4 linked regions of the Homo sapiens genome follow. The protein of the gene in region 4 purifies or fractionates together with the protein of the main gene of each other region. This does not show direct contact. Each region holds a gene or a part of one and is shown on either strand. Other genes may lie near its edges. The genes, in order: TM9SF4, NRP2, ITGA6 and TSPAN11.

Region 1 (7,617 bases), on a different chromosome or scaffold from region 4:
TTTTGTTTTTTTTTTTTTTTTGAGATAGGGTCTCACTCTGTCACCCAGGCTGCAGTGCAGTGACACGATCTTGGCTCACTGTAGCCTCCGCCTCCCGGGTTCAAGCGATTCTTGTGCCTCAGCCTCCCGAGTAGCTGGGATTACAGGTGTGTGCCACCACACCCTGCTAATTTTTGTATTTTTAGAAGACAGGGTTTCGCCATGTTGGCCAGGCTGGTGTTGAACTCCTGGCCTCAAGTGATTTGCCTGCTTCAGCCTCCCAAAATTCTGAGATTACAGGCATGAGCCACTGCTCCCGGCCTGTTGTTGTTTCTTAAGACAGGGTCTCGCTCTGTTGCCAAAGCTGGAGTGCAGTGCAGTGATCAGGGCTCACTGAGGTTCAAGTGATCCTCCCACCTCAGCCCCGCAAGTAGCTGGTACTACAGGTGCACACCACCAAGCCCAGCTAATTTTTTCTTTTTGTATTTTTTTTGTAGAGGGGTTTGCCATGTTGTCCAAGCTGGTCTCAAACTCCTGAGCTCAAGCGATCTCCCAGCTTTGGTCTCCCAGAGTGCTGGGATTACAGGTGTGAGTCACTGTGCTGGGCAAAAATCACTGTCCCTTCCACTGTGCTTAGACTAAAATCCAAACTCCTTTCCACAGCCTCTGTGCCAACTGAGAACAAGCTGGCTCCCTTCAAGTACTGTCCTGAAGGGGATGGGAAGGGGAAGCAGCCTAATACAACACTATTTCAAAATGCAATCCACAGACAACAAAATGTAGACCGCAGTCCTTCCCATTTCCAGGCATGCTTCTCAAAACAGTTGCTCTTGCTTCCCTCCAGTTTCATCTTGTATCATTCTCTCCTACCCCAACCCTCATCATGCTTCGGCCCCTCCAGCCTTCTGTGTGTTCCTCAAAAACACCAAGCTCCCTTCCACATCGGCCCCTTACACTTGCCATTTCCTTTGCTTGGAACATTCTTTGCATGGCTGGTTCCTTCTTGTTAATTATGTTTTAACTCAAGTCACCTCCTCTGAGAAGACTTCTTTCTGACCACTCAATCCAAAGTAGTTGTGTCACCCAGTCACCCCTAATCACTATCACTTCATTTTGCTGTCCTCACAGCATCTACTGGTGACATTATTTTGTTCACGTATTTACTTGTTCACTGCCTGTCTCCTCAAACCAGAAAGGCTCCACAAGTGTAGGGACCTTGACCCTGTAATTCACAACTACATCCCTAGTTCCTGGAACAGAATTGGTACTCAAATATTTGTTGACTAAATAGATGTGTACCACATATATGTATTGCTAGCTTATAACCTCTTAAAAATCTCTGAACAAGGCAGGGATTTCCCAGTGCAGTGCCGTAAATACCACTTTACTCAATGTTTTCCTTATAGCAAGAGAGGGTGTGATTTCCTTTTAAGTTCTTACACTATCTCTGTTCTGAATGTGGTACCAGAATATATATACATATATGTAGGTTTCAACATACTACTTTGAGGATTTGCCCCACTCGTGGTTCAGCCTGAAGTCTGAAACCACAGAAACCAGGTAAGGCCATGAAATCTTTTTACCTGACCTCTGAAGTTCTAAATAAGGAATCCCTCATTAAACAAAGGTAAGTTCTCAGTCAGCTAAGAGAAGGAGGGAAAATTGCTACCAGTCAATAATATATCCCTGTTTGGAGAAAACCAACACCAAATTATTTAAGCCAGAATCTTCCTTTGCTAAAGTCAAATGTCATTTCCTTTTCTCTGAGTCTTCCTTGTCATTCACTCCCCGGACGAAATTATCTGCTGAGGAGGCAGTATGCAGGAAGACCCAGGAAATCATTCTGGACTAAGTGACTTCAATTTTAGTTCTGGTCTCTTGACAAGCAGAATTTGAACTAAACTTTTAGAAAAAGGGCCAGTCCTTCAAAGATTTACTTCCAAGGTTCTGCACCAGGAGCCCGCAAGCTCTGACCCAACTTCCAAGCATGGCTATTTTACCTCCACCCTCATCCACACACAGACTTCATCCCAACATATAGCTTCATAATAAAGAGCCTTCATCCCTAACGAGCTGTGTGGCCATGTTGGGGAATGGGAAGGAGAGCAGTGAGGTGGGGCTATTAGTGTTTTTCAAAACGTAGTTCACAGACCACCTCCACTATATAATCACTAGAGTGCTTATAAAAGGGCAGATTCCTGGGCATCACCTAGCCCTATGGAATTAGAATCTCTGGGAGTGGGGCTGCTCAGGAAACTGCATTTTTAGCATGCCTCCCCCTACACACCTCGAGATTCTTATGCACAGTAAAGTTTGAGAACCAACAGGGTAAAAGGTCCCTAAGAGAGGGGCAGGGAGTTGACTGAGAGAAGACAGGAAGGGCAGGGAAGCCTCTAGGGATGAAAGATGGGGGTGGGGTAGGTGAAGGCAAGCTCTGGGGTAGCGGCAGTCAAGGGGGTGCGCGATGGGGACAGCTATGAGTGTAAGTGAGGACAGGGCTCTGAAAAGGATCTGAGGCAGCGCTTGGGCTGGGAGGGTGGTCAGAGGAGAGGTCACATCTGCGGACTGGTTATGATGGTGGGGAGGCGGGGAGAGCAGGGTCTGGACGTGACGGGGAGGAGCAAGGATGAGAATAACGGGAGGGGGTCTTCAGAGGGGTCAGGACAGGGAGGTGAGAAATGGAAAATGGGGCTCACAGTGGGCGGAGACCAAAAGTAGAATGGGAACCGGCGAAGGCAGCAGCCGAGGTCTTCCTCCGAAACGGCGCCTCCCCCAAAACTCGGGGCCTTCACAAGCCTGAGTGCAGGGGCAGGGCCAGGGAGGTGGATTTCGGGGAAGACAAGCCCAGTCAGAGGTAGCCCTCAGGCCTGAGTCAGGGGTCCCGGAGGTGGCTCAGGGCCAGGCATGGGGTGCTGGAAGATCCTGGGATACCCCGGAGGGCCCCGCTCCAGCTCCCGCTCCCGGAGTCTCCTTCACTCACCATCGCCGTCGCCATCTTGGATCCACGTGTCGCCGTAATGACGTCAGCGGAAGTGGTGCTCCCTGGTTACGGAGTTTAACTCCACAAGGTGGTCGTCTGGCTTCAACCGCTCCTGTAGTGGCGGTCAGCAGAGGGGAAAAGGAGTCTTAGCTCCTGCTCGACAGTCTGGTCTGGGAAAGTAAGGTCGCTGATTAGGTGAAGAGAGAGAACGGTGTAACTAAGGAAGCCATATTAGCTCCTGGCAGAAACTGAGCCTCCCTTATTCCCGCTGCATTGTGGGTAATGGGGGTGTGCGAAAGTGCGCTCGTGCTCTCAGCGCCATCTTTACTACTGGCAGGAAGACCCATTGCCAGGGTTACCTGAGACCTTGATTTGAGGGAAAGGGTGGGCACTGGGGCTCCAAGAGCAGTACGACTCCAAGAATAATTTGTAATTATATATTTAAGTATTTGTTTGATTTTAAGTATTTGTTTGACTATCCTATATCCTCTTTAGTAGACTGTAATCCCCATGAGGGTGGACCCTGTTTTTTTGTTTGTTCGTTTTTTACCTTGCTCTTCCTCATTCCCATCTGTGAAATGGGAAGGGGGTTGGTTCATCATAGGCTTGTGATGAGGATTCAGTGACACAGTATTACATAGGATGTATTCAATAAATAATTGTCAGTATATGTTTATGTATACTCCTTTGGGCTTGTGGTAGATGCCCAATACATTATTTTTTAAATGAACGAGTGAAAACCAGCATATTCAGTGGAGGGAGATATCTCTGAATGTGGACGTCATGCACTAGCTTAGTGTGTGACTCCAGACAAGTCACGCAATCTTCCTAAGCCTCAGTTTCCAAATCTGTGAAAAAGAGACTCAAAGAATCATGGTATTAAGGTTGGGAAAGAACTCAAAGTTCATTTGACCCATGTATATCACTTTAAACTGAATACAGTACCAGTGCTATCTTAGACTGTTTTAAAAAAGCTATTAAAAGAATAATAATGATTAATAATAATCATCAGCACTTGCCGAGCATTTTGTGTGCTGCAGCACTTAGCATTATGCTAACAGTTCATTAGACTCTTTTTATCTAATTCTAGGGGGCAAGGGACAGTTGAACTCTGATCCCCACCTATGGGCACCACTGTGGTGGATTTTCTGCAAAGATGGCTGCCACGTAGTTCTGTCCGTCCTTGCATGATGAGCATACGGTTTCTCTCCTCAAGAGATAGACTCTGTTTTACCTCCTGTTGAATCTGGCTGGTCATGTTGGTTGCTTTGACCAATAGGATGTGCTACAAGTGATTCTGCCAGTACTGAGCCTAGGCCTTAAGAGGATTGAAAACGTCTGATTCTACCTTCTTGGTTATAAAGAAGTGTAGCTACTCTGCTGGAAAGGCACCTGGAGAGAGAGGGAGGCCCAGCCAACTCCTCAAGACATTCTAGAAACTACAGCTAAGCACTATAATATGTAACTGAAGTCATCTTGGACATTCCAACCCCCACTGAGCTACTAGCTGAATGCAGCTACATGAATAACCTCATGAACACCATGTGGACCAAAAGAACTGCCCAGCTAAGCCCAGCTTTAGAGTGGGGTGGTTTATTATAGATCATTTCAGTAATAGATCATTGAAACACACACCCATTAACTCTTGTGACCTGCACAACCATCCTGAAGATTGGCAGATTGGCTATTAACCCCAAGGAGGAGGAAGCTTGAGAGACTAGGGGGAATTTGCTGCAGTCTCATAGTTTCCAGACTTGGAACCAGTTTTCCTAGAGCTTCGATCCTGAGTGTTTCCCACCATTTCTAGCTGCCTGAAGAAAGATAACTGATAAGGAGCAAAGCTCCATAAATGGCCTATTATTTTTTAGTATTTCCATTTTTTTTCTCATGCTTTGTATTTTTCCCTAAAGGCCTTTCATATCCCAATCTCTTTTGGTGACATATGCCAGAATCCTAGAACTAGACTGCCTGGGTTCAGAACGCATTTCCACCACTCATTAGCTCCATAACATGGGCAAGTTTCTCTTTTTTTTCTGAAAAAAATTTTTTTTGAGATGGAGTCTCACTCTGTTGCCGAGGCTGGAGTGCAGTGGCGCAATCTCAGTTCACTGTAACCTCTGACTCCCGGATTCGAACAATTATCTTGCCTCAGCCTCCTGAGTAGCTGGGATTACAGGTGCATGCCACCAAGCCCGGCTGAGTTTTTGTATTTTTAGTAGAGATGGGGTTTCGCCATGTTGGCCAGGTTGGTCTAGAACTCCTGACCTCGAGTGATCTGCCTGCCTTGGCCTCCCAAAGGGCTGGGATTACAGGTGTGAGCCACTGGACCCGGCCTAAATATTTTTCATTGTTGTAAAATATGCATAACTAAATATTGACTATTTTAATCATTTTTAAGTGCACAAATCAGTGAAATCAACTACATTCACAAAGTTGTCAATCATTACCGTCATCCGTCTCCAGAACATTTTCGTCATCCCTAAAAATGAATATCCACATGCAAAAGAATGAAATTGGACCTTTATCTCACACTATATACAAAATCAATTCAAAATGGATTAAAGACTTATAGGGCCAGAAACTGTAAAGCTACTAGATGAAGACATAGGGAAAACTTGACATTGGCTTGGGCAATGATTTTTTGGATATGACACCAAAAGCACAGGAAACGAAAGCAAAAATAGACAGGTGGGATTGCATCAAACTAAAAAGCTCTGCACAGCAAAAGAAACAACAGAGTAAAAAGGTGACCTCCAGAGCTGAGGAAAATATTTACAAATCAAAAACGATCTGATAAGGGGTTAATATCCAAAATATATAAGGAGCTTAAATAACTCAATAGCAAAAAATCCCAAATAACCTGGTTTAAAAATGGGCAAGAGATCTAAGCAGACATTTCTCAGGAAACAGACAAATGGCCAGCAGGTAAATGGAAAGGTGCTCAACATCCTTAATCATCAGGGAAATGTAAATCGAAACCACAATGAGCAATCATTTCACACCTCTTAGAACCATTATTATCAAAACGACACATAATAAGTATTGGCAAGGATGTGGAGAAAAGGGAACTCTTGCATAAATTGGTACGGTCACTATGGAAAACAGTATGAATGTTCATCAAAATTAAAATTAAAAATGGAACTACCATATAATGCAGCAATCCCACTTCTGAGTATATATCCAAAAGGAAATGAAATCAATGTCTGCACCCCCGTATTTATTGCAGCACTATTCATAATAGCTAAGATATAGAAACACAGCAGCTGTAAACTATAATCTATGTTTAATATAAGTATATAACTATATATTTATAAATATAAAATATATATAATATTATATATAACTTTTTAAAAGGTTTATTTATCTATTTATTATTTATTTGAGATGGAGTTTTGCTTTTTGTTGTCCAGGCTGGAGTGCAGTGGCATGATCTTGGCTCACAGCAACCTCCGCCTTCCAGGTTCAAGCGATTCTCCTGTCTCAGTCTCCCGAGTAGCTGGGATTACAGGTGCCCGCCACCAAGCCAGGCTAATTTTTGTGTTTTTAGTAGAGACGGGGTTTCACCATGTTGGCCAGGCTGGTCTGCAACTGTTGACCTCAGGTGATCCACCCGCTTCGGCTTCCCGAAGTGCTGGGATTACGGGCGTGAGCCACCACTCCCGGCCTATTTATTTATTTTTGAATTTTCTTTTTGAGACAGAGTTTCACTCTGTCGCCCAGGCTGGAGCGCAGTGGTGCAATCTCAGCTCACTGCAACCTCTGCCTCCCAGGTTCAAGTGATTCTTTTGCCTCAGCCTCCCCAGTAGCTGGGGCTACAGGTGTTTGCCACCAAGCCCGGCTAATCTTTTTGTATTTTTAGTAGAGAAAGGGTTTCGCCATGATGGCCAGGCTGTTATCAAATTCCTGGCCTCAAGTGAGCCACCCATCTCAGCCTCCAAAAGTGCTGGGATTATAAGCGTGAGCCACTGTGCCCCGCTATTTATTTATTTTGAGACAGGGTCTCATTCTATCACCCAGGCTGGAGTGCAGTGGCACAATCACGGCTCACTGCAGCCTAGACCTCCTGGGTAGGTCTCCTACCTCAGCCTCCTGAGTAGCTAGGACTGCAGGCACCTGCCACCATGCCCGGCCAATATTTGTATTTTTTGTAGAGATGGGGTTTCACCATCTTGCCCAGGCTGGTCTCAAACTCTTGGGCTCAAGTGATCCACCTGCCTTGGCCTCCCAGAGTGTTGGGATTGCAGACGTGAACCACCGTGCCTGGCCAATATTATTTATTTATTTATTTTTTGAGACAGGGTCTCACTCTCTTGCCCAGGCTGGAGTGCAGTGGTACAATCACGGCTCACTGCAACCTCAATCTCCTGGGCTCAAGTGTTTCTCCTGCCTCAGCCTCCTGTGTAGCTGGGACCACAGTTGCATGCCACCACAACCAGCTAAATGTTTAACTCTTTGTAGATATGGTGGGGGGGGGGGTCCCACTTGTTGCCCAAGCTGGTCTCAAACTTCTGGGCTCAAACAATCCTCCCACCTTAGCCTCCCAAAGTGCTGGGATTATAGGTGTGAGCCACTGCACCTGCACCTGGTCAACTCTTTTTTCTTAGTGCTGAATAATATCCCATTATGTGAATATACCACAAGTTGTTTATCCATTCACC
Region 2 (7,023 bases), on a different chromosome or scaffold from region 4:
GAGTTTCTTCAAATCCCTCACCCAGATCATCTAAGTCGTTGGCTCAGGGTTTTAACCAAATTTTGCTCACCAACCCGGGATAAGCTGCGTTTTAAGAATTATTTCTGTGAGCTGAGGCTGGATTTTGTTTTATTCAAAGCAACTTCAGCCTGTCACAAGACAGTCTCATAAAATCTGTATCTTGGCTTAAGCTGGGAAGAAATGAGCCAATCCATCAGCCCAGGAATGTGGCTGTTTGACCACTTCCTAAGGCAACTGGGAAGGGATGCAATCTACTCAATTTATGGAGACTGGTGGCAGTGAATGATGCACTCCTGAAGGCACAGCAAATGGAAATCCTTCTGAACTTTTGAAATGATAAAGTTCAAAATCTGAATAAAAGGGCCATCTAGGAGGGAAGGAGAGAGGGAAGCAGAGAGCAGGAGAGGAAGCCAGCATATGAGTTTGGAAATGAATAAAGAATGAAGCAAATTCCCTCTCTTAAAACACCTCCAATGAATTCACTTAGGAGAGAACTGGAAATTGGGTCTGGAAATGGGGCCTTTTGAACATCTCTCCCCTCAATCTAGATTCTAAAAATGAAGCCTCATTTAATCGGTAAAATGTAAGTTTGATGCGATTACCTCTCCTGACCTCGAATCATGCCACCTGTGTTAACCTTATTATTTGTCATCTTATATCATAAACAAATGCAATTCCAATAGGGCAGCCGATATAATGTCATTAGTTTATATTTATGTCCTCTCTTTTCCAGCCCTCATTGCAAATGCAATTTTGATGCCATTGATGAGAGATCTGGGATTACAATTCCTGACCATTTTAGGAGACATTTGGGGAAGGAAACAGAAGAATAATTTTGAGGTCTCTCCAAAAACCAAAGGAGAAAAAAAAGTAATATAATATTGTCTTCATTTATTTTGATTAACTGAAGCTTATGTTGAAACATTAATGGCTCCCCATTGGTTAGCAAGTGAAACCCAAACCTCTTTGCCTAGCAATTTGGGCCTTGAATTGAGCCCAAGCTATTATTTATAATCTTGTTTGCAATTATTTCCCACCATACATTCTAAACTGCAGCTTCTGAGTGTTCCCCAAACCAACCCAGCATCCATTTCTCTACTCACACCTTCCCCTTCCCCTGGTATGCCCTTCCCTGCTCTAAATCCCACCTACTCTCTCACTCCAGGCTGCCTCTGCCCTTTCTCCTCTCCCATACTGGGAGTGGTCTTTCTCCTCTGTGCATCTGAGAGGCTGAAGCTCTTTAGCATCTTCTGAGATGTGTGAGAGTTCTGGAGGGCCTCATCCAGTCTACTGAGCCACCAGCAACTTGAGGTCATGACTCCTTGCTGATCCATCTTTGGCAAGTCTTACAGGATCAAACCAGAACCTTTCCCAAAAGTCAGACTCATCAAGATTTGGTGAATTAACCAATTAAGAAGTGACCAAAGGAACATCAAAGGTATCACTAGATAGGACAGACTCTGAGAGTTCTATCAGAAATTATTCTGCGGCCACAGCTACTGCGCTTCCCTCCCCACCCCCAGCTGTTATTAAGTGCAAATGTTTCTTAGTGGTGAATTGAGAGTTTGAATAACTTGTCTGGGATAATAATACCTAGTCACAAGTAGGTCAAGGTAGAGTTAGTGCGAACTATGTCTCCTAGAACACCCTAAAGCAGATAATAATGATAAATTTCAAAGCACATTCACATTTTATTTTATTTTATTTTATTTTTTGAGACAGAGTCTCACTCTGTCACCCAGGCTAGAGTGCAGTGGCACAATCTCGGCCCACTGCAACCTCCGCCTCCCAAGTTTAAGCGATTTTCCTGCCTTAGCCTCCCAAGTAGCTGGGATTATAGGCGCCCACCACCATACCCAGCTATTGTGTGTGTGTGTGTGTGTGTGTGTGTGTGTGTGTGTGTGTGTGTGTGTGTATTTTTAGCAGGGATGGGGTCTTGCTATGTTGGCCAGGCTGGTCTCGAACTCCTGACCTCAGGTGATCTGCCCACCTCCTCCTCCCAAAGTGCTGGGATTACAGGCATGAGCCACCATGCTCGGCCATTTTATTTTTAATACTAGTAAAATTAATTTATCTCAGGGGTTTTGTCCCCTTCACTCCAACCCCCACACTTCCAAAGGCAACTTTAAATATTGGTTATCTGTACCACCAGGAAGATGCTGACTATTACTTCATCACTAAGCCATTTGTTGGTATTGGATTTTCTTGTGCTTGGTTTCAGCAAACCTCTCTTTACTCAACCCCCTCCTCATTTTCCTTTCTGTAGCCCCTAGAATGCCTTTGGGGAACATCTGTTTTATTTTTTCTCCTGTATCCAAACAATTATTATTAGCATTCGGTCTAGTAATTTGCAATTCCCATTATCTTCTCTGCTGAAAGACTCGCCAGAACTGGTTACTGGTTATCGCAGGATTTGTGGAGGCGGGAGCAGGGTACCACGGCCACGTGCACTCAGCTGGCCGGCAGCCTCGTGCACTCTGTGCTACCGAGAGCTTCTCTTTTGTTATTCCCAGCCCCTCCTTTTTTTCTGGATTAGATAATGACTCCTTTATGAAGACCCAGAGGGAAATGGGATTATTAAGACCCTTGCTGGGTAAAAGCTATTTTGTCTTTATGATGACTTTTTTGAGTTCAGCTGCTGAAGGGCCTTAGTGCCAGAGTAGAAGTTATTACACATTCGGGAGAGCGCCTTAAACACGGTGTTCCCTGCTGAGCACACTCTCAGTGTTGAAGGATGGAAGGGGAGGAAAAGGAAAGGAAATGAGAGATTAAAAAGAAAATAGGAGGTAAGAATACTGAAAACAGAGGAAGAAGGAGGGAAAAAATGCAAGGGAGACATAAATCTAAGATAAGAACTCAGCAGAGAATATTCTCTGAAGAAGAGCATGGCGAGAGATAATATGGTGCTTACAAAACACAGAGGTTTGGTGGTGGAAGAACTGAGAATAAGAATTATTTTTTAAATCTCATAAAAATCAACTTACCACAATGGTTATAGTGTGCTTTCTACGATCACGAGATTCCACTAACCCCACTGAAACAGTTTTAAAGATTCAGTGACTTCAGAATGGGCTTCATATGTGCCAAACAGTATTCTACATAATCTGACATAGCCCAACAACCCTATGAAGTAGGTATTGTTACCAAACACATTTACAGACAAGGAAACCGAGGCACATAGACTAAGTATCTGATCACACAGGATACTGGGATCACAGAGCCAGCAAGTGGCTGAGCTAGATTCTAAACCCAGGCAGTCTAGTTCCCATGTTTCAGAAGCTGGGAAGGCCAGGGATGATCCCCACAAAACTTCTCAGTGGCAAACCTACTTGGTAGCATTTAGGGAAAGACAAATATTTTGCCTGTTTGAAAACCCCCTTTTCTCTGCCTGTGCCAGTACTCTGTCTGTGTGAACAATGAGAGATGTGTTTGAGGCTGGGGTGTGAGTGGGCTGGAAGCACTTAACACCTTCTCCACTCCCTGTACACACAGGCACTCAGCTCCTTGTCATCCTGGCCCTCTTTCCTGTGTTCTGGAAACCCTAGGCATGGGGCCGGGGAGGGCGGGTGATGGATAGGAAGTTCAGGTCTGAAACCATGTATCACAACATCGAAGGGTTTTTTTGTTTTTTTTGTTTTGTTTTGTTTTTTTGTTTTTTGCCAACTCCTATTTCTCTCCTTTCTTCTCAATCCTACTCTTCTCTATCCTAAATGCCACATTGTTATTGTTCTACTGGATAGGAGTAGCATTTTCAGAAATGGGGGATTTATTTTTATAGCACAGCTGGTCTGCCAAAGGTCACATAATTTGGCAATGTTCCCAGTGGTTAAAAATTAATTTCTCCTTATTAATACAACCAAGGTCCCAGAGGATCGGAGCTCAGCCTTATCTAAACTTGACAGCTTCCTAAACCTTTAGAAGATGCTTTCTCCTGGAGGGCCAGCCATGATACAAGGCCACTGTGTCCTGGAATCCTACTCCACTGAATCCTGTTAGGCAATGAAACCATTAAGCCTCTGACCATTTCTCATCAAGGCAGATAAAGCTTTGAAAAATACTGTAGCTCTCCAGGACAAACTTCTGCAGCATCTTCCAGAAATGGGTTAATTAAAAAACAAAAATCAGCAAACAGCCAAGTCCTTACCTGGAAGGAACAGTACAAAGACTAACTTCTGGTGATCAATATACTTATCTGCCACTCAAGGAAGGTATCTCAAAGATTATCCAGTTGCAAGTGATGGTCAGATAATAAAATACCTCAAATATGTTAATAACACTACAAGCCATTGCCCAGATGACACTTTTCAAGTCCTTTCTTGTCAGTTCAAGAAATTAAAAAGATATTCTTCTTTTGCTCTATCTTTTAAGAAAGGAAGATCTCAGCTCAAGTTCCTAAAGTCTTTCCAAACTGGACCTTTGGAGAATATATTTGGAAACCTCTTTACCTGGCTCTTGAATTCTGTCAACTCAGAATTGTCTTACACTCAGGTCATCCTGAGTCAGTTCATTTTCCTGATTGCTTTAGGGAAGACTTGAGTGAAATGAAAAACACCAGGGTCCCCAGAATCATCTGGTCCCTGGTGTCTCTCCTCACTGACCCCAGACCCCTCCCTCACTGTCATTTGTATTCGTGCCTCACTGCATATGAATTGGCATTTGGATTCCTAGCTTTTTCTATGCCTGGAAGATAGGAACTGGCCTTTCTGCTGCAGAACGTGGACTTGATACATTCAACAGCAGGGGATCAGAGCCATTTGGTAGACAGCAGGAGTCCTGTCTGGGTAGCCTGGGTTCCAGTCACTGCAGCCTTCCAATCTTTCATTTTGCCAGTTGAGTGCTCCGTAGCTTAATGTCTGAGGGCTCTATGGGATGACATAAAACTCCAAACCTGATGTGCACTGGCGCATTCACAATTCCACCAGGCACCGCTTGGACGAGTAGGGGCCTGCCCGGGGCCCTTTGGGGAGTGCTCCTCTTGCCACTGTCTTGCACTGTGTGCTCTGCTGGCAACTGGCCACAGCTTCCCTACCTCCAGGAGCTGATCACGGGGGAAAAATGTTTACTGGGTACCCATTTAATGTGGGCATGAGACCAATCCCTAGAGCCCAGAGCAGGCCGTCTGCGTAAAATCTAGGAGTTTACAGTTTACTTGCAAATTATTATGCTCGCCAATGGCCATCTCACATTTTGGGGAGACAGGCTAAAAGAAACACTTCAAACCCTTATCCGGCGCCTAGACCGTCATTGCTTCTCTTTCAGGATTTGTCTGAACCCAGACCTGTCTCCCACAGCCAATTTACACCTCTTATCTGATCATCCAGTCCAGACGGAAGGGTGAATTGACCGAGAATCTGCGCGTGTCCATGGCAATGGCGTTAAAACCCAAGCATAGATCAAAGCTCTCCAGACGAGGAGGGGAGGGGTAGATGGTTATGGGGTCTGGGTTCTTTTGGCCCCAAGCGATGTGTCCCGGAGGTGGGGACATTAGGCCTGGGAGTTGCCACCATTTGAAGAAACCCATTGTCAGGACTTGAATGATTTTCTGAGCAAAACCCAGTCCCCCCGCAGATCATGATTAACTCTAGCAAAGGGGACGTTCGTAGTGGGCGCTGATCGGGAATGGCTAGCGCCAGGGGGCTCTCCTCTCTGTCTGAAACCGAAAGAACAGGAAGTGGAGGGAGGGGAGCCGAGCAGGGAGCACACGCCAATAAACCTGAGCGTGGATCTCCTATCTTTTAGAAGAAATTCAGCCGGAGCCGCAGAAGCCGCAACGCATATGGGCAAGATCCCCTAAAACTTGGTCTGGAAAGCTGATTCCCGAAGGTTCCCCAACCCAGATGATTCCCAGAGGGGCGACAAGTCTATTCCAAATCCCTCCCCCACCTCCAAACACTAGGGCTACCGGCGCCCGCCACCCAGCCGCTGGACGCCTGCGACCCGGTGGGAAAGACCCCCGGCACAGCCAGCCCGAGTCGAAGGGCGGGGGCAGCCCTTCAATCAGAGCGCGCCTTGCCTCCATTAACTTGTGTTGATATTAAAAAGAAATCAATCAGTGAAAATGAAGCATCGGCCGTGAACATTTCTTTTTCTCACGTGGAAAAGCAAAGAGCGAGGCGGCTGGGGAGGGGAGGCGGGAACTCGCCGGCGGCTGCAGGCAGAGGCTTCTCCAGAGACCAGCGCTGCAGCCGAGACCTAACTTTCCGGCATAGGGCAGCGTTGAAGAAATGCCGCAGGCTTTTCCCTGGGGGTGTCCTTAGGAGGAGGAGGAGGAGGAGGGCACAAGCATGGAGTAGTTGGAGGCGGCCAACTTCGCGGAGGCTTCAGCCTCGGTTTTGCTTTCGCTGGGAATATTTTTGCTTAATAGAATGTTTATGGATCGCTGGGCTCTGTTTCTGCTGCGTAGCCCAAACAAATCGATGCGGCGTTAGAGAAGGCGCTGGGGGGCGGGGAAGGGGAGGGAGGGCTAGGAGGAGAGCTGAGGGGCTATCACGTCCCCACCACGTGGATGGCCGCACGCCGCGTGCTCTTCACCTGTTCCTGCGCACCGGCGGGCGCTGGGCGCGCGGCGCTTCTAGAGGCTGTGCAAGTTGCGCGCATTCCTGGGGCTCAAGCTGGTTCCTTCCCGCCTCTCTCCGCCCTCCTCTCCGAAATCCCACCCCAGTTTCCTCTCACCTAGTTGGGCCAGCGCTTGGATTCCCAAGCCAGCCGGCCTCGGCCTCCCGCCACTCAAAGCCGTCTCTCTAGGGGTCGCGGCGAGCCTGCCGCGCAGAGCGGAGCGCAGGGGACTGGCGGGGGCGCCCGGGGCAGGGAGGGAGGCAGGCTAGCGGCTGCACTGCGGTCTGGCGAGGCGGCGCAGTGAGGAGAGGGGCAGCCTGGTGCGCGTCGCCCATGCGGCCTCCCAGCCACGCGCCAGCCCAAGGTGCCGCGCGCCGCGACCGCCGTGTTATTTGCTCAGTTGCTCCCCCGCGCGCACCTTCTGCCCCATCTTGCTCCTTCCCAGAA
Region 3 (7,332 bases), on a different chromosome or scaffold from region 4:
ATAGTTAAAGGCACTATAGAAAATTTGAACTACAAACATTTATGATAGGTCTTCTATGATCGTGCTTTTATCTGACCGTCCCATGCATCTGATATTTTACTTCTCCTTCCTCAAAGTCCTCTGTTCATTAAACTCACTTTTGTTATAAGTCTAATTAAGACCTATTAAAGTTAAGTTGCTTTGAACATGGGTTTCATAAATATGACTGAGTTTAAAATATCATTACCCAAAAACAACCACCTTTGGCTTTACTCTCAGGCAATCTTAGAATCACAGAATGTTTAAGACACCTTGTAAGGTACCTGACACACAGTAGGTACACAATTACTGCTTTTTAAATGATCATTAACAGCTACCATTTAGTCAGCAAGTACCCATGCCAGACAGGCATTAAGCACTTTGCATATTATCTCTTAATCCTCATAATAACCCCAGTAAGCAGTAATATCTCCATTTTACAGATAAAGAAATTAAAGCTCAAAGTAAATTAACAGCTGCTAATAAAAGGCCGAGAAGGAATCTCAGCTTAGGTCTCTCTCCCACCAGGTCCCTGAAAGACCCCCACTGAGTTTTTCCATAGAGTTTAGGAAGCTGGTCCAGAAGTTTTCTCAGTCTTACTGGCTCTGCCATTTACACCCACATTCTTTACTGTCAAAGGTTGACAACTGACCTGTGCTATGGCCTGTGTGTGCTGGTTCTCCTGGGAAGACCAATGCTATTCCTGAAGCTGGAATAAAGCTTTACAAAAGCATGGAGGTGGGCAGCACGTGACATAAACCACAGCCTCTTTAAAGTGTGGTCACTGCCTTTGGACTCTAGGAAACATACAGTCTCCTTATACGGGGCCTCTCCCCTCTGTCAGCTGCTAAGAAGAGCTTTCCTAGAAGGCATCAGACCCCATTGCAGGCTTATCCTTACCTCGGGAGGAGTTGCCTCAGCTCTAATACCAGAGAAGCCCAGCAGCAGTAACAAGTTTTAGCAAGCATGCTGCTAACCTTCACGACACAGATTCCTGGCAAAGTCACGTTTCGCAAATCTCCACTGCCAGGATATTTCTTGTCCCAGTACTTTCCCTTCACACTTTTTGCTTGAACAAGTATTTCAAGGAAGCCACCGGTTTCAGTGGGGCTCTGGTGCAGAGAGAGAATGCCCAGGAGAATGAATTCCCTCTGCTGGCCCACAATCATTTCTGCACTAACAAGCTCAAATTCTACACACCAAGTATTCCGAGACAATAAACGTCATCTATTAACTGAGTTAACAGGAACCTTTCATTTCAGATTTACAGCTTAACAACAATTATTTCTGAGAGAAAGCAGAGTATAAGCAGCTGGCCAGGCATATAGCCTCAGACCACCCTCCTAGAGCCTCCCCACCCCCAGCTAATTTCTGTGCTTCACCTAGCAGGTGTTATCAGAAAAAAAAAAAAACTGACTAAAATTCAGGGGCTGCAACATTCACGAATTCCAAAGTTGTTAACCGCTGAAATCAAGAGGTTTCCTCCAGTTCTAAAATCCCATTCGCCTCTCCTAAACACAAAATCTCTTCACTGTGGCTGCACTTTGCTTTCTCCGGTCTGTTGGTCCTGGAAGGTCCTTAGTTCAACTCAAGGCCTGGGTGGGGAGGGGAGACCTTTTGTTGCTACAGCCTATTTTTCAGTAGCACAGATGAAGAATGCAACCCCATAGCGATTAAGGCGACTAAGCGCCAAAATACCCTCTCCGGCTTAAATAGCCGATCATGTGGGAACCAAACACTGTTTAAGAAATAAAAGGAGAGGCCAGTAGTGCCGGTCTCCTCTTTCTCCTGGGAGGTTTACCGCTACGGTGGGGGGTTGTCCCTTACAAACCTTGTTTGCAAAGTCCAGGCTCAGATCGGACATTTTGCTTTAACCCCTTGGCTGTGCCCGCCCAACGCAGGAGCCGAGCGGGTCTCGGGTGCGGCCGAGTACTTTGGGGGCTGGGCACATCACTCAGACTTGTTTTCTCAGCTGATCTAGTCCAGCGAACAGGTGTTTGGTTAATTCCCGCCCCCACCCCCATCTTTTTTTTTTTTTTTTTCAAAGGCATGTAAAAGTATCTCCTAAGGAGCGCCCCCGCCTTGCTGAGAAAGTCATGCAGGACACATGGAAAGTGGCTTTCCAACTTGTGCGGGGCGCGCCAGTCTGCGGGGGAGACGGGGTGCACCGTGAGTTTGGGAAAGGCCTAGACCATCCTGGAACTACGCTCCCTGCAAACCCACAGCAGCGCTGCGGTGACCCTGAACGCCACCCCAGCCCCAAACACACACGTGAAGCTCAGCAAAGCGTGCCACCTGCCGGGGTCCCAGCAAACACGCCCGGAGGGAAGAACCGGCGGAAAGCACTTTGTTTAAAACAGAAAAAAAAGTAAACTCTCCCGGGGCCCAGCCTAGCCCTCGGGTTCTCCTCCTTCCCGAGCTGAATGGAGGGAGGCGCCGCGCGGGGCGGGTCAGGGCGGGGAGCCGAGCGCGCTGGGCGCTGGGTGCGCCTCGGCCGGCCCGGGCGCGACCCACGGGCCAACTACTCCCCGGGGCCGGCGGGAACAGGGCGCGCCCTCGCCTCAACTCGCGCGCAGGCCGGCGCCCCAGTGGGGGTGGGAAGGGTCTGGGAACTCACAGCCGCTTGTCCTCGGGCTGCAGTTGCCAGTGCATGGCCAGCGAGAAGCCGAAGAGGCTCCCGGGGTCTCCATATTTCCGGATCACGTTGTCCTCCCGAGTGTCCAAGTTGAAGGCTGCGCCGAGCCGGGACAGGAGCCCCGCCGACAGGTAGAGCAAGCACAGCTGCCCGGCGGCGGCCATGGGCGGACGCACGGGGAGGGGAGCGGGGACCTGCAGCGGCCGCCCTGCGCTCCGGGCTGGGTCCGAGGCTGCCGCGCTGCTGCTACCGCAGCCACCTTCGCCTCCTCTCGCCGCTGCGCCCGGCCCCACCCCCGGGACGGGTCGCGCTCTCCGTCCGGCCGCTCCCCCTCGCGGGCAGCTCGCGACCGCTGAATGAGCCCGTTGTTCTCTGGAGACTCGCAGGCGTTTTATCAAGTGACGAGGACGCCGGCCCCGCCCCTCCCCACCCTCTCGCCCCTCCTTGCGCGCCCGCGGCCCGGCGCACCGCCCGCACCTTACCCGCCGGCTCTGGCGTCTCCAGCTGCCCGGTACCTGCCCGGAAGCCACGACGTGGGAGCCCCGGAGGCGAGCTCGCGGCGAAGCAGCCCCACTGCGCCGCCCTCTGTGGACAGAATTGTGGTTGCCGAGTAGCACAGAGCGAGGGAGACTTTACTACCCGTTATAAAGAGAAGTGCAGGTGATGCACCGGGCCTCATGGCCTGAGCAGCCTGTTCTTGCAGATGTGGGCCCACGTGCAGATGCATACGTCATTCATTCATTTCTACAGGTGTTTATGGAGCGCTTAAGGCGTGCCCAACACTTGGGGACTACAGCTGTGTAGACTGTTCTGGGTCCTCAAACACCTAACAACCCTCAAAAATGATCACAGCGCACACCTTGATAGTGCTGTATAATGTACACAACCCAGCCATTACCTCAATTCATCCTAACAGTCCTATGAGGTAGGTGTTTCTTTTTGCAGATCAGAAAACCGAAGTTCCGCCTTGTCCCCAGATCACCTAGGATTTTGCCCAGGTGACCAGGAGAGCTTGTGGAAGAAGTCACGCAAGTCAAGGATGGGTTGTTTAAAGTGGCGCCAGGAGCTCAGGCGACGATGCCGTTCTTTCCTAGCCCCGGACTTTCAGAACTAGTTGTGGGGAGAACTGCTGGGCCAAGAGACAGCTCCGAGTTCTGTGTAGGTGGCATGAAGGCTCCTGCCTCCAGGACATGAGGCGGGGCTCCAGTGAGGTGTTGGCCCTAGGGGCAACCTTATCCTGCAGGGGTTCTTAACCCGAGGAGAGGTAATTAATTCAAGAGTACTGTGAACTTGGATGAGAAAAAATTTACGTCTTAATTTTCACCAACCTCTGACATTTAGCACGTTTTGCCATTATGAACGTAGACAACAAACTACAGTAGCAGTAGGATAAGTATTTATGACTTAGTAATCACTAGAAACCATAGGTTTTTACATCACATCACAGTTGTTGCAAGTATCTCAAATAACAGTAGTTATTAGACAATCAGCCAGATATTATATGTCAATAATGAAGCATATATATTGCTCTAGCACAAATTTTTAAAAACATTTTGTTAGCTACATTTCAATATTATTGGCTTTTTTTGTAACCTCTTGTGGTTTCTTTTATGTATTTAAAACCCTTATTCTGAGAAGAACCCCATGGTTTTCAGCAGCCTGCCAAAGGGGTCCCATGGCATGAAAAGGTTGGGACGTGCTGGCCTGAAGCCTTCTGGAATGCCTTGGGGAGCCCTCTTTGGAATCTGACATCCCTGCATTGGAAATACAAGCAGGGTGCAGCCCCAGGAAAGAGCAGGAGCTGTGTGTGCATAGGGGTAGGGGTGGCCTCTTCTTCACCTCAAGGAGTATTCAAGAGAACAGCATGTGCCACTCAGAAAAGCTGCGTGAACATCATCAAGGGTCCCCACAGGTGGTAGCAGCTGTCAGAGTAAGTCCGTCAGTATATTAGGGGTGTGTACCACTTCCTTTCCAATCAGTAACTCCAGTCAATTATAGTCCAAAGTGGGGTGCAGTGGTTTAAATTCAGTAGATGATTTTGGAGAGCACACAGTTTTAACAAATATATCTTGATAAGGTTGAGAAACTATTGGAGACAATCTAGTAAACTAAGAAGTACTTGCAACGTGATTTTTCATGCAAATAAGTTGCAAGTTAGCCTTTTCCCTTCGTGTAAAATATGTACTATTCCAGAGAGATGGGGTCCAGACTATTATAGGCATAGTATAATGAACCTCACTGCAGAGTGTACTCAGCCAGGAGCTGGTGATTTGGCTGTAATGGTTACTGAAATATTCTGAATTGGTTGATAAAAGCTGCTGCCCTTAGTTCCTCACAGGCAACCATCCCTGCCCTGCCCATTTTCCTAGGACTAAGCAACTTCCTCACAACCTGGCAAATGAAAGTTTAAGCCCTTAAGCCCTGATGCAGCAAGGGCTCCCTCTGCTTGGATATCCCCATGTCACACCAGCTGTTAACTATTCTGAATATCACCCCTTGCTTCTAAGAGTAATTCTGTGGACCATTGATTCCTGTCTTCCCAAGATGTGTTTAGTGGATGATGTATGAATGGCCAGAGTTATTTACTTTATCCCAAACACAGATTGTGCTCAAATTGAAATTCTAAATAATATTAAATTTAAATATCACAACTACATGTATAGCACTACTGAAGCAAATTATGCTTGTGTGGGAAGAGGTTCAGATAAAGAAAAACAAGGCTGGGAGTCTTGTTCTGGAATATGTCAAGTGCCCATCGCAAATGGAAAACTTATTAGCTCAGTGCTCCTACCTGCCACCTGTCTCCTACCTACTTGAAGTTGAGTCAAACTCTCACTCTCAACATAGATGCCGAAGATACTTGAAGTTGAGTCAAACCCTCACTCTTGACATAATTTATTTGAAGATTGTCAGCTCCTTCTGACTATAACCATCAAGTTTTGGCCAGGCACAGTGGCTCACGCCTATAATCCTGGCACTTTGGGAGGCGAGGTGGGAGGATCACCTGAGGTCAAGGGTTCGAGACCAGCCTGGCCAAAATGGTGAGACTCCCCCCCACCCAACCCCACCACCCCGTCTCTACTAAAAATACAAAAATTAGCTGGGTCTAATGATGGGCACCTCTAATCCCAGCTACTCGGGAGGCCAAGGCTCAAGACTCACTTGAAATGGGGAGACAGAGGTTGCAGTAAGCCAAGATTGCACCACTGCACTCCAGACTAGGTGACAGAGCAAGACTCTGACTCAAAAAAAAAAAAGAATCAAGTTTTGTGACTCAGTTGTTATTTCCATTGTAAAACAGAGTTGGGTGTTTTACAAAAGTGTCTTACAAAAAGGAGGTTTAGAGGTCATTCTGGATCCACTGAGGACACATCAATCTCTGGGGCCAAAGGAATAAAAGAATTCAGAGCCCTAAAAATTAAAGACCTGGGGAGGGAGTACACAGTTTTAATGGGGAAAACAAAATCTGGGACAGGAAGATACTTGTCTGGAACCAAAGGGAGAGAGATAGCTTGGTGATAAAGGTGTGCTGAGTATATAGGGCATGGGGCATGTGTGTGTGTGTGCTAGCACACATGCCTATGAAAACAAGACATGCACAGTGCAAGAAGGGCCCTACAAATCCAGTTAACTGGCAGAACCGTGTCTAAAAAAAAAAAAAAAGGGCCGATTAGAAAACGAAATAACACATCACAGAAGAAACTTCTATAAACTGAACATTTTTAATTAAAAGGCAGTGAAAGCTATGCATAGAGGCATTTGCTCAGGTGAGAGCTTTTGAATTCTTATGTTTTACCAGTACACTTTTCAAAATAAAATTATTTATTTGTACTATATCCCACCCTCTGTAGAAGAGCTTTCAAGATAATTTTAGAATATTGGTCATTTATGGAGAAGTCTGAAGAATCCATGTCATACCTAATATATTTTCCATTCCCTGAGACCTACTTTAATCATTTTGTTATCATGTTCACTGTTATATTGACTTCATCATCACTAACAGCAGAGAATATATTTGCTTTTTTCATGCAACATAAAAACTAGTTATTAGGCCGGACGTGGTGGCTCATGCCTGTAATCCCAGCACTTCTGGAGGCTGAGGCAGGCAGATCACCTGAAGTCAGGAGTTCGAGACCAGCCTGGCCAACTTGGCGAAACCCCATCTCTACTAAAAATACAAAAATGAGCCGGGCGTGGTGGAGGTGCCGTAATTTCAGCTACTCAGGATGCTGAGGCAGGAGAATCGCTTGAACCCGGGAGGCAGAGGTTGCATTGAGCCGAGATTGCACCACTGCACTCCAGCCTGGGCAACAGAGCAAGACTCCGTCTCAAGAAACTAGTTAATGAAAACATCTCTTTATTCTCTTTCTGTGGTTACATTATCCCAACAGTTTTACATATTTCCTGGAGCCCTTTAATGTGAGGCCATCCATGAGAGTGGGTAGCACATGGTCTCTGGAACCCAAGTTCCTTATTACGGATCCTGCCTCTGCTCCACGCTAGCCACAAGGCCATTTAATCTCTCCATGTCTCCGTTTTCCCAGCTGTAAACCGGAAATAACAACATGTCATCTACCCCTCAGTAGTTGCTTTCTCTTAAGAATTAGTAGAGTTGATGTTATCTAAAGCACTTAGAATGTTGCATCAAAACCAGAGCTCCCACCTGTGTACAGTCTTTC
Region 4 (7,023 bases):
TATTTCATGATATTAAGGAATGACTGTTAATTGTTTTAAAGTGTGATAATGGTAATGTTATCATGTTTTCTAGAAGAGGGTCCTTAAGTTTAGAGATACACACTGAAACTCTAACAGATGACATGCTGTCTGGGACTGTTTCAGAATCACCCTGGGGTTAGGAAGTGGGCAGGGTGCAGGTGAGAGAGTGGACGGAACCAAGATCGGCTATGAGATGGTAATTGTTGAACTCTGGGTGAAGGGAAGATGGAGCTTCATGAAAAACACTCTTTATTTTTGCATATCTTTGAAAATTGCCATAAAAAAACCTAGAAAGAGGAAGAGGAAGAGGAGGAGGAAGAGGGAGAGGGAGAGGAGAAGGGGAAGTAGGAGGAAAAAGAGAATAAGAAGGAAACGGGATAAGGAGGAGGGGAAGGGTACAGAATAGGAGAAGGAGAAGGAGAGGACCAGGAAGAATAGGAGAAGAAGAAATAGAAGGAGGAAGAGGAAGAGGAAGAAGGGGAGTGAGAGGAGACAGAGATGGAGATACGGAGAAGGAGCTGCCACTGCAGCTACTGAGACGCCTGCTTGCTTGGGTCCTAAGAACCTGGAGACCGTGGCAAACCCCAGACCCAGGAGCAGCCACCCCTTCTCGGGCACTCCCACAGCCTCAGCCCCTCCCACTCCAGGGCTGGGGCCCCTCTCACTTGCTGGAAACCTGACTGGGTGGTGCAGGGCTCCCCATCCCTGCAGAGCACAGGGCGGGCACTGACCGTGGAGAGGCAGCCCTTCCGCTCCCAGAGGATGGCACCGAAGCCCAGGAAGCCGGTCACCATGACAAGTACGCCCGCAAAGATGAGGATGTAGGCGGAGGCGGCAAAGGTGCTGGAGGCCAGGACGCTGAGGTAGCCACTCTTCTCCACCAGGGTCCAGATGCCCACAGCCAGGACGGCTGCTCCCCCGACCTGCAGGAGACCACCGGGTTAGAGCAGGGGGTGGCGGGGGCCTCGGCAGCTGCTATCCGTTCAGTGCCCACAGGGTGCCAGGCACTTCTCTTGCACTGGCTCATTCAGTCCTCCAAAGGAGGCGAGAATGGTATGGTTACCCAATTTTACAGATGAGGAAATCGAGGCTGAGAGAGGTTAGGAGACTTGTCCAAGGTAAGCAACCTGCAGAGCCAGGTTTTGAATCCAGGTCCGACTGTGAATTCGGTGCTTTTTACCCTGGTGGCCTATTGCGTATGAGGCCAGGGGAGAGGACTGCAGTTTCAGGGATGATCAACGTATCTGAGTCCCTTTGCTTCTCCAACTTTTCACCTCCCCAACTCCTGCCACCCCTGGCTCCTATCCCTTCAGAGCACTTCTTCCCTCTGTCCGCACTTCCCTGGTGGGGCTCGTTCGAGCACCGCCCCTTGTTTAATCCTTATGTTTGCCCATTGGGGAAGCACAGCTGGGCTTTTTATCCCTACTCTACGAGGAAGAAACTGAGACCCACGGAGGAAAGGTAAATTGTCCAAGGTCCTGCCTGTAGTTGGGGGCAGGGTTAGGGGCAGAGACAGGAGGAGAACTCAGAGCCCAGGGCCTGCCCACTCAGTCACACTGCCTCCATGATTGAAGAGTCAGGGTTCTTGACAGGCTGGAGCCGCCTGGGACTGCAGGAGGAGAAACTTTTTTGCTAATTGTCTGATTCCCCTTTGGTCCTGAGAAGAGGGGAGGGATAGGACCCTCCTGATTTGCAGATAGGGGGATGCCTCCTTAGAAACTGGAGTACTTGGGAAATATAGCAGGGATGGCTCGGCTTGGCTGGTTCTATTTGCAATGAAGCCAAGTAACTCTTTCTGTGACTGTTGGACCCAGAAGGGCATAATGTGTGTGTATGCACACATGCACAGCATCTTCAGGGTGCCAGATGGGGAGTATGTGGGTGTTTGCCCAGGATTTGGGGACAGGACCCCTGGGACCTCTGACCGTCTCTGCCATCTGCTCCTGGGAATGTGGACTTCTGCCCGCTAGTCTCCCTGCCCCCATTTAAGGATGGGTCTCTTTTCTCTAATGGGTGTGGGATGCTTCCTCAAGGAGTCCTGGGCGTGGTCAAAGCTAGAGAAGTGCCCTGGGCTCTGTCCATGCCCCCTGAGCCTTGTCACTGAAAGGAGCTCCCCATCTGCCCCAGGAAGACTCCATATAACCTACCCTGTCATTTCCCAGTTCTCTGTTCTGGGCAGTCACAGACATCCGTTGAGCAAACGAACATGTATTTACCATTTTCTCTTCTGAGCTTTGCAACAGCTCTGTGAGCATGGGGCAGGGTGGCAGGGCACATATTCTGCATTTTGCAGATGAGGAAATTGAGGCTTGAAGAGAATAAGACTGTGCCCAAGATTACACCATGAGTTTTAGAATTGAGATTCAACCCCATGTCTCCTGAGAGCAAATCCAGGACTCTGTCCCCAGATCCCACAGACTGGGCTGGGCCTGCTCCTCTACTCTGTGTTTTTAATAGATACTATTTCTTCAAAGTGCCATTTAATCTCCATTGGCACCTCCACCAGGTGGAAGAGCCAGGTGGAAGGACACCATCTGGGCTACAGCAAACAGAATGGGAGTGGCTATCACGCAGATTTCTTCAATTCCGTGATGCACACATTTTTCTCTCACATTTTAACATCTCTAAAATTGGGATGTATCTTATGACTGATGGTATTTTATAATTGTACTTGGCAGTAGTTTTTCTTAGTGGTACAAAAAACAATAGTGTGTCTTACCACTGATGATATCTTAGATTCAATGAAATCCTAGAATAGGTTTTAAAATTATCTGTGGGTATAGGTTATCTGCGGCTCACACAACCTCCATGACCAGTGAGGGATTTCCTGAGTTTAGGTCAATAAAATTGTGTAATGTGAGGGTTTGCAGCCAAATATCCTGCACGGAATTCTTTTTGCCCCCTTCAGCATGCCTGGAAGGCTTGGGTGAGGGTCCCAACTTTGCATAACTAGCGGTGTGACCTAAACATAGTCCCTTAACCTCTCCGGACCTCAGCTTCTTCATCTCTTAAATCAGGGAGTTGTATTAGACCAGTGGTTCCCAACCTGTAACTACTGGGAACCCCTTTGATTACTTTTCCCCAGGATCTAATGTTTTGAGAGCCTCCACCCCGTCCCAGTCCTTAGGCTTAGCTGTAAGGAATGAGAGGGTTTCATTCCTTTGGAAGACCTGCTTGGGACATGGTCATCTCTTTAGAAAACAAGCTTTTCTCTGGACAGGAAAATTAACACTGCTCACTGTTGGATGGGTCACCAGAGGGGGTCACGGGAGGGCAGAAGTCAGCAGCCTGGGTTCTAGTTCTGACTGTGTCCCTGACTAACCACATGATTGTGGGACAGATATGCAGCCCCTCTAAGCCTCAGTTTCTTCATCTGTAAACTGGGGGCACTGGATGGGACCATATCTGAGGTCCCTTCCATATGGTTAAACTGTCCCTGCTGGTACCAGAAGTCAAGCTTCTGTCAAAGAACCTCCGGCAAGATGGTTCTGAATTAATGGCTCATGGCTGTCACTCAAGCCGCCTGGAAACTGCCTAAGTCAGCAGAAAGCAGCAGAAGAGGCAGGAAGAGGGACTTGATGGAGTGGGGAGAGATCTGACCCCAGTGAACTATTCAACAACCATTGGCATACAGTTGATTCAACAGTATTTGGCTCTTTACAGAATCTAGCGTGGTTTTCCATGAGGGTAATAACTACATTTTTCTTTTTTTTTTTTTTCCTCGCTCTGTCGCCTAGTCTGGAGTACAGTGGTGCGATCTTGGCTCACTGCAACCTCCACCTCCCAGGTTCAAGCAATTCTCCCACCTTAGCCTTCTGAGTAGCTGGGATTACAGGTGTGCACCACCACGCCTGGCTAATTTTTGTATCCTTAGTAGAAAGGGGGTTTCATCAAGTTGGTCAGGCTGGTCTTGAACTCTTGACCTCAGGTGATCCACCTGCCTCGGCCTCCCAAAGTGCTGGGATTACAGGTGTGAGCCAGCGCGCCTGGGCAATAACTACATTTTTCAAAGCCATAGCCTGTGGCCGACTAGCCAGCAAGCCCTGCAGAGGGTGAAGCCAGGCGACAAGGATGCAAGCTGGCCAGGAGGGGCGGAGCAGGTCACCCCTGTTGTGTAATTTTAGGAACTTTATGTTCATAGGAAAGAAACATGATGGGGTGAAGCATTAACCTGAGTGGCTGCACATGCCTGAGGGGCCGAGAGAAATAAGGCAGCAGACCTGGAGGAAAGCAGGCAGAGGGTATAAAAGTAAATGTAGGCGTTTTTCTTTGTCTCGCTACCATAGGGCTTCTGCAATGAAGGAAGGAAAGGGATGGGGCAGGAGCCAGGAACACTTGAATCCCAATAAGGAAGGATCCTCTGCGGAGGGGAGTTCTCCACCCTCAGTGAGGAGGAGCCCATGGCTCAGGATGCGGGAAATGCACAGGGTGATGGGAAGTGTACAGGGTGATAGTAGACTTTGTGTTTACTGGCCACCTGCTACATGCCAAGCCCCACACTGGACTGAAAAGTCTCTGGGTTGGACAGGAGCTCACCCATGGGAACCACACTCATCATCTGTGCTCCTCCTCCCTGCTCAGTCTCATACATGGCGCCGCGCCATCACCCACCCACCCACCCACCCACAGACACCACAGGGTCACTGTAGGCTCCTCCTTCTCTCAATGACAACCATGTGCCAATTCCCCTCTGCCCTCAAACCTGTCTCCATCTCCCCGCCACACTGTCCACCTCGGTTCCCCACCTCAGTTGGCTCCCGGCTCCTGGCTCCTGTTCCGCCCACAGGCTGATCCCCCAAGGCACCCCCGGCTGAGAAGTCCCCACCAGCTCCCATGCCCCAGGCACCAAGCCCAAAAACTCTTTTGCATGGCCTCGGTGCTCTTACTGTCTGGCCTTAACCTGACTTTTTGGCATCATCTTCTGGTACTTTCTTCCCCCCACACCTCGGTTTTTTTTTTTTTTTTTTTTGAGACAGAGTCTCACTCGGTCGCGCAGCCTGGAGCACAGTGGCGTGATCTCGGCTCACTGCAACCTCCGCCTCCCAGGTTCAAGCGATTCTCCTGCCTCAGTCTCCTGAGTAGCTAGGATTACAGGCACGCGCCACCACGCCTGGCTAATTTTTGTATTTTTTTTCCTGGGTTTTAATCACTTTGAACTAAGTAGTTGCTTCTTCTTGAAAACAGTGTGGTTACCTAGTAACTCAGGCACTATTAGCAGAGTGGTAAACAGCGTGAACTCCAGGGCGTGGCGCGGTGTCCGAGTCCAAGCCTTCTGTTTACTGGCTGTGTGGATTTGGATAAGCAACACAGCCTCTGTGGGCCTCAGGGAGGCTCTCTCTTTTTCCTGCCCACCTTTCACGCATTGTTCTCTCTGCCCTTTCTCTTCCGTTGAACTCCTACACACCCTCTAAGGCCCATTTTGAGATTTTGAGTGTGGCACCTGCTCTGTCCTGGGCAGGTGAGTTCATCCCTCTCCTGCATGCCTGTGGTGCTGCTCACCTCACAGCAGCCCTTGACACTTGGGGCAGGGAAAGTCCCCTCACTCCCCTCAGAACGCGGCCCAGCACACGGCCTGGTACCCGGGAGCCGCCCCAGTGAGTGTGAGACTCAGTGGATGAGGCTCTGTAGAGGGCTGTGGAAATGGCATCTGCTCCCCTACCTGCCTCTGTCTGCCGAGCTTCTGGGGCAACAGCTAGTGTTTCTCTTTCCTGCTTTATGGCTGTTTTGATTTTTAAAGGGGCAGTCCACAAAGTCCCAGTAGTCCCAGAGAGGAATAGGCTTTTTCTCTGGGTCATTAAGAAGAGGCTCCTGGAAAGGCTGGGGTTGCGCCCTCGGTATCTTAAGGTCAGACTGATGCTTGGTTACTCTCATACTTTCTTTCAACCAATACCCACTGTGCACCTGCTACAATGATGCCACGCTCTTGGGCCATCAAGGGACCCATGCCTGACACTGCCACTGCCCCTGCCCCTGCCCCAGGATCACTTGTAGGACACTGGGTTGAAAGACCTGACTTAGTAACCACCAGAGTGACTTCTGCTATGACGGAGAAGTGAATGGGTCTAGTTTGGGGAGCAAACACAGCATGGGGGCTCAGGGAGAGGACTGGGAGACCAGGTCTGAACAAGACTCAGTTTCTTTTACAGAATGGCTTCCCATTCCCACATCAGAAGAGTCAGCTGAACCTTAGACTGCAGCCCCGAGAGAGCACAGCTGAGCCCTATACCCACATGCAGGCAGGGTGGACGGCACCCCAGTCCCACGCCCAAAATGCCGAGCTCTCCAGGAGGGCACATGAAAGCGTGCATCAGGTGCTGCTGCTCACCCTCCTCATGAATGACCTTCTCTGAGTGCCAGGCATGCATTTCTCCCCAGCTCTGCCCATGCTCCTGCTGCCTTGGTTTATGGAATCTTCAAGGATAGGCTTGTTATGCTAAGGGCTATTTCCCACTTTGAGGCATCCTTGTTTTTGGCTTTCTGGCTTTAAAGAGCCCTTGATAAAATAAATCAGAACACTACCTCCTCTGCTGTCTTCCCCAGTCCCATCTACCCCTATAACAAGAGCAAAATCTCATGAGTCTTACTGAGGGGTGGAGCTGGGAGGGAACATGAGATCACCTGTTCATCTTCCAAACCCAGCTCAGAGCCCAGAGGAAACCTTCCTTGGAGCTGTCCCTGCCCCCCTCTCCCAGCAAATCATTCTGTCCTCTGTACCAACTCCAGGTCTTGCACGTTTCCATAGTTACACTCATACTCTATTTATTTTATTGGTTACCTTGTGTGCCTCCTCTTTTAGCCTCTTGATTAAACTTCGTTCATCTTAATATCCCTAGCAGAGGGCTACACATGTAAGGAAGGAAGGAAGGAAGGAGGGAGGGAGGGAGGGAAGGAAGGAAGGAAGGAAGGAAGGAGGGAGGGAGGGAGGGAAGGAGGGAAGGAAGGAAGGAGGGAAGGAAGGAGGGAGGGAGGGAGGGAAGGAAGGAAGGAAGGAAGGAAGGAGGG

The links.
Region 1: the proteins of TSPAN11 (region 4) and TM9SF4 purify together in Homo sapiens (affinity purification with mass spectrometry; 2 studies listed by BioGRID and IntAct, with this or other methods). This does not show direct contact.
Region 2: the proteins of TSPAN11 (region 4) and NRP2 purify together in Homo sapiens (affinity purification with mass spectrometry; 2 studies listed by BioGRID and IntAct, with this or other methods). This does not show direct contact.
Region 3: the proteins of TSPAN11 (region 4) and ITGA6 purify together in Homo sapiens (affinity purification with mass spectrometry; 2 studies listed by BioGRID and IntAct, with this or other methods). This does not show direct contact.

What each region holds. Positions count from the first base shown.
Region 1 is NC_000020.11:32,105,098-32,112,714, reverse strand, and holds the start of TM9SF4 (transmembrane 9 superfamily member 4 isoform 1 precursor), read right to left. Parts: upstream 3,002-7,617; 5' UTR 2,975-3,001; coding exon 2,960-2,974; exon of another isoform or gene 2,676-2,959; intron 1-2,675. UniProt on the Homo sapiens protein: Associates with proteins harboring glycine-rich transmembrane domains and ensures their efficient localization to the cell surface.
Region 2 is NC_000002.12:205,685,493-205,692,515, reverse strand, and holds part of NRP2 (neuropilin-2 isoform 2 precursor), read right to left. Parts: intron 1-7,023.
Region 3 is NC_000002.12:172,423,274-172,430,605, reverse strand, and holds the start of ITGA6 (integrin alpha-6 isoform b preproprotein), read right to left. Parts: upstream 3,021-7,332; 5' UTR 2,818-3,020; coding exon 2,636-2,817; intron 1-2,635. UniProt on the Homo sapiens protein: Integrin alpha-6/beta-1 (ITGA6:ITGB1) is a receptor for laminin on platelets. Integrin alpha-6/beta-1 (ITGA6:ITGB1) is present in oocytes and is involved in sperm-egg fusion.
Region 4 is NC_000012.12:30,957,747-30,964,769, reverse strand, and holds part of TSPAN11 (tetraspanin-11), read right to left. Parts: intron 945-7,023; coding exon 753-944; intron 1-752.